2 separate regions of the Homo sapiens genome follow, and region 1 is linked to region 2. The links come from fine-mapping of genetic effects on plasma protein levels. A gene starts in region 2. The other region holds a variant in brackets. All regions are shown on one strand. Distances are between the middles of the regions. Region 1 has its middle 15 kb from the start of LIPK. Region 2 holds the start of LIPF (lipase F, gastric type).

The links. A credible set is the group of variants that fine-mapping cannot tell apart. PIP is the chance, under the fine-mapping model, that this variant and not a neighbour inherited with it causes the effect. Protein levels are from antibody-based Olink assays in UK Biobank. Linkage for the fine-mapping came from a reference panel and not from the study's own genotypes, which makes the PIPs less certain.
Region 1: its variant is the best candidate, but not a certain one, in a credible set for the plasma level of the LIPF protein (UK Biobank, PIP 0.57).

The regions. Positions count from the first base shown.
Region 1 is chr10:88,689,734-88,692,659 of GRCh38, forward strand. No RefSeq gene overlaps it. Among named protein-coding and RNA genes, the nearest start is that of LIPK, 15 kb to the right of the region's middle. The variant C/A (reference allele first, on the strand shown) is at 1,228.
Region 2 is chr10:88,662,854-88,665,779 of GRCh38, forward strand. LIPF (lipase F, gastric type) reads left to right here and starts at 1,589. Exons shown (of 10, transcript NM_004190.4): 1 at 1,589-1,638.

The sequences.
Region 1 (2,926 bases), 27 kb after region 2:
CAGGGTAGTGCTTGTATTACCCACCCCTCAACTTCAGGAAGCTCAGCACAGAGACAGACCCTCCATTTGTTTAGGGGAAAGTAAGGGAAAAGAACAAGATACTCTGCCTGGTAATCCAGAGAATTCTTCTGGATCTTATCCAAAACCACCAAGGTGGTACCTCTATAAGTCTGCAAGAGCTACAGTGTTACTGGGCTAAGGGTGCCTCCTAACGCAGATATGGCTGCAGTGACCAAGAACTTAGATCACAGCACTCAAGTCCCTTTGAATACCTAGAAAGCCTTCCAATAAGGGTGGGTACAAACAAGCCCAGACTGTGAAGACTACAACAAATACATAACTCTTAAATGCCCAGACACTGACAAACGTCTGCAAACATCAAGACCGTCTAGGAAAATATGACCTCACCAAGTAAACTAAATAAGCCACCAGGGACCAACCCCAGAGAGACAGAGAAATGTGACCTTTCAGATATAAACTTCAGAATAGCTGTTTTGAGGAAACTCACAGAAATTCAAGACAACACAGAGAAGGAATTCAGGACTCTATCAGATAAATTTAACAAAGAGATTGAAATAATTACAAAGAATCAAGCAGAAATTCTGGAATTGAAAAATGCAATCGACATACTGAAGAATGCATGAGAGTCTCTTAGCAGAATTGAACAAGCAGTAGAAAGAATTAGTAAGCTTGAAGACAGGCTATTTGAAAATGCAGCCAGAGGGTGGAGCATGGTGGCTCACGCCTGTAATCCAAGCACTTTGCCTGACTAACATGGTGAAACCCCATCTCTACTAAAAGAAATACAAAAAAATTAGCCAAGCGTAGTGGCGGGTGCCTGTAATCCCAGCTACTCAGGAGGCTGAGGCAGGAGAATCGCTTGAACCTGGGAGGCGGAGGTTGCAATGAGCTGAGATCATGCCACTGCACTCCAACCTGGGCGACAGAGCAAGACTCCGTCTCAAAAAAAAAAAAAAAAGAAAGAAAGAAAGAAAATACAGTCAGAGAAAAAAGAATGAAAAAGAACAAAGCACAAAAGCACACCTACAAAATCTAGAAAATAGCTTCAAAGCGCAAATATAAGAGTCACTGGCCGTAAAAAGGAGGTAGAGAGAGAGATAGGGGTAGAAAGTTTATTCAAAGGGATATAAGAGAACTTCCCAAAGCTAGAGACAGTTATCAATGTTCATGTACAAGAAGCCTATAGAATACCAAGCAGACTTATCC[C/A]AAAGAAGACTTAATAATCAAACTCCCAAAGGTCTAGGATAAAGAAAGGATCCTAAAAGCAGTAAGAGAGGGAGGGAGAGAGGGAGAGAGAAAGAGAGAGAGAGAGAGAACATTCAAGGGAGCTCCAGTATGTCTGGCAGAAGACTTTTCAGTGGAAACCTTTCAGGTCGGGAGAAAGTGGCATGACATATTTAAAGCGCTGAAGGAAAAAAAAAAAAAAAACACCTTTTACCCTAGAATAGTATATCTGGTGAAAATATCCTTCAAACATGTAGGAGAAATAAAGACTTTCCCAGACAAACAAAAGCTGAGGCATTTCATTAACAGCAGACCTGTCCTATAAGAAATGCTAAAGAGAGTTCTTCAATTTGAAAGAAAAGGACATTAATGAGCAATAAGAAATCTGAAGGTACAAAACTCACTGGTAATAGTAAGTACACAGAAAAACAGAATATTATAATACTGTAATTGTGGTGTGTAAACTGTTCACAAGTAGAAAGGCTAAAAGAACCAATCAAAAATAATAACGACAAGTAATTTTCAAGAAATATACAGTACAATAAGATATAAATAGAAACAACTAAAAGTTTAAAAGCGGGATGAAGTTAAAGTGTAGAATTTTTGTTAGTTTTCTCTTTGCTTGTTTATGCAATCAGTGTTAAGTTGTCATCAGTTGAAAATAATGGGTTATATTATTTGCAAGCGTCGTAGAAACCTCAAATAAAAAAACATACAACAGTTCCACAAACAATAAAAAAGCAATACATTGGCTGGGTGTGATGGCTCAATAATCCCAGCACTTTAGGAGGCTGAGGCAGGAGGATTACTTGAGGTCAGAAGTTCAAGATCAGCCTGGCCAAAATGGTGAAACCTATCTCTACTAAAAATACAAAAATTAGCCAGGTGTGGTGATGAGTGCCTGTAATCCCAGCTACTTGGGAGGCTGAGGCAGGAGAATCGATTGAACCTGGGAGGTGGAGGTTGCAGGTTGCAGTGAGTTGAGATGGTGCCACTGCACCACTCAAGCCTGGGTGACAGATTGAGACTCCATCTCAAAAAAAAAAGCAATAGATTAATACATATCACCAGAGAAAATCATTAAAAGGAAGACAGGAAGGAAGGAAACAAGGAAGAGAAGACCACAAAACAATCAGAAAACAACTAACAAAATAGCAGGAGTAAGTCTTCACTTATCAATAATAACATTGAATGTAAATGGACTAGACTCTCCAATCAAAAACAGAGAGTAGCTAATCTTGTCATTTGCAACAACCTGGATGGAATTGGATGTCATGTCATAAGTGAAATAAGCCAGACACAGAAAGATAAACTTCTCATGTTCTCACTTGTTTGTGGGAGCTAAAAATTAAAACAACTGAATTCATGGAGATAGAGACTAGAATGTTGGTTACCAGAGTCTGGGAAGGGTTTTTTTTGTGTTGCGGGGGAGGGGAGTGAAGTGGAGATGCTTACTGGGCACAAATATAGAATAAATAAGATAGAGTATTTGATAGCACAATAGAATTACTAGTCAATGATAATTTAATGTACATTTAAAAATAACTAAAAGTGTATAGTTGAATTGCTTGTAACACAAAGGATCAATGCTTGAGGGGATAGATACCTCATTTACCCTGATATGATTATTACTCATTTATGCCTGCATCAAAATATCTCATGTACTCCATATATACACCTA
Region 2 (2,926 bases):
AGGATATGAACAGACATTTCTCAAAAGAAGACAGTTATGCCACCAACAAACATATGAAAAAAAAGCTCATCATCACTGGTCATTAGAGAAATGCAAATCAAAACCACAATGAGATACCATCTCACTCCAGTTAGAATGGCGATCATTAAAAAGTCAGGAAATAACAGATGCTGGAGAGGATGTGGAGAAATAGGAACGCTTTTTCACTGTTGGTGGGAGTGTAAATTAGTTCAACCATTGTGGAAGACAGTGTGGCAATTCCTCAAGGATCTAGAACCAGAAATACCATTTGACCCAGCAATCCCATTACTGGGTATATACCCCAAGGATTGTAAATCATTCCACTGTAGGGAACACATGCACACATATGTTTATTGCAGCACTATTCACAATAGCAAAGACTTGGAACCAACCCAAATGCCCATCAATAATAGACTGGATAAAGAAAATGTGGCACATATACACCATGGAATACTATGCAGCCATGAAAAAGGATGAGTTCATGTCCTTCACAGGGACATGGATAAAGCTGGAAAGCATCATTCTCAGCAAACTAACACAGGAAGAGAAAACCAAACACCGCATGTTCTCATTCATAAGTGGGAGTTGAACAATGAGAACACATGGACACAGGGAAGGGAACGTCACACACCAGGGCCTGCCAGGGGCTAGGGGACAATGGGAGGGATAGCACTAGGAGAAATACCTAATGTAGATGATGGGTGGATTGGTGCAGCAAACCACCATGGCGCATGTATACTATGCAGCAAACCTGCACATTCCGCACATGTATCCCACGAGCAACAGATGCTCATGATGGTTGTAAAGGATCAACTGTATTTTAAAACATAATTTAATATATACTTTTAATAAACACATTCATATTGTTCAAACTATAACCCATAGATTTTTTTGTTTCCTTTTTTTTAACTTTTATTTTAAGTTTAGGGGTACAAGTGCAGGTTTGTTACATAGGTAAACCTGTGTCCTGGAGATTTGTTGTACAGATTGTTTCATCGTCCAGGTATTAAGCCTAGATTTCTTAGAAGGAAAAAGACACCAAAAATATGTTCTTAAAGGTCAAGGGCTGGGTTTTGTATGATAGCTAGACCATTATCTGTAGGATTTGAGACCCTGGTCAAAGACCATAATAAAATATTAATCTTTGCTGAACACATTCACTTATCTAACCATCTAGTCAAAATAGCTTATGCGCTGCATTTTTAAAGAATAACAGGTGGCCTTTTGTCATTTTATGCCTCTCTATCTGAGCCAAACTATATAATCATTTGCATTATACCTTTGGCTCAAAAACGTTTATATGTTTAGGCTATCAAGGATTATTTTTAATGGTTCCTAAATCATTTTAATCCTCAGAACTACTTTGGCCAATATTTGTCTTTGTTAAAAGTTAAAGGTGAGCACTCAGTATTATGTGAAAATGAATGCAATATTTAATTTTTAGTTTTGTCCTGTTAACATTAGATGATGCCCAGATAGTAAGTCTTTTTGGTAATGTAATCAGTGGATGAGGAATCTGACCATTGTTGAAGGTTTTGTATATAAGAAGTCAATACAACATTGACCAAAATACTAACCAGCCAGAGAAACAGAATCCTAACTATTTCTGAGGAAACTGTAAGTAGAACTTCTGCTGAACAAAATTGTTATTTGAATTATTAGATTTTTTCTTTATCCCAAGTGATGCATTTTTAAAGGCTTAGATATTTGTTGCATATTCACCTGCATAAATGTATCTGTTTAAATTATGGCTTATTCCTCTAGGATTTGATTTATTTTATTCTTTTTTTTGTATGGACATGAGACTCTTAATTATGGAATGACAAATTTGTTTATTATTGCAATTAGTGCCTAATGTGAAAGTCTCATAATTTCTTAACTATTGAATTACAAATTTGTTTATTAAGTTCCTAATGTGAAAGTCTAGTCTCTGTGACTCTTCTTTTTGAGAAGGAATAGATCAGTAATCTAGTGACATATAATTGGCTGTATTAATATGCTATGTTTAATATTTAATATCATCCAAATCAACTGCTGTTGAATTGATCATTATTAATACGATTGTGAAACCTTATAGGCTATTAAAACATTTATTTAAATTATAAACTTTTCAAAACAGAAGTCTAGACCAAATTATATAAATCTCCCTGGGGATGTCCCTATAAAAGCTGGCCCAGGGTCATACTGAAGGAGTATTACAGTGGGGAAGAACATAGCCTTTGGAAATAGACTAGTTTAAAATATGGGCTCCACTACTTTCTATATATTTGGTTGGGCGAGTCCTCTTTTAGCCTTACCTTGCTTATTTGTAAAATGGATAATATAATGCTACCTACTTCATAGAGTTGCTATGAGAATTAAATGAGATAATAGTCATAATAACTATATTTAACTAACGTTTATGAGATGCCCAGCATGTTAAGAACTTTACTTTTGTTATCATAATGAATTCCCCTAACATAGAGAAATGTACTATTACAGGCCCTGTTTTATAGATGAGAACACTGTCTTAGCAAGATAGTTCATTTCACGTATACCATGTTGAACACACAGTACAGCACACAGTGAGTCCTCTGTATGTGTTAATTACTGGTATTTTCCTAGGACTTGGCAACAAGCATTTTGAGAAATTTATTCTGCCCTTGAACATCTTTGAGCCCATTGAGATGTTCTCCAACGCAAACAGTAGGTTAAGTGTCCTCACTTTACAATGGCAAATCACTTAATGGAGGTCATGTGGGTTCCTGAAATGTTTGATGAAAGCCTCTGGTTTGAATGTTACAACACTACTGGTTAGTCTTTATATATTAGTTTATCTCTTCCTAAAATATCACGGTAAAAACAAGGCTTAGTTAAAAACTGATTTTTTTTTTTTTTTTTTTTTTTTGAGACGGAGTCTCACACT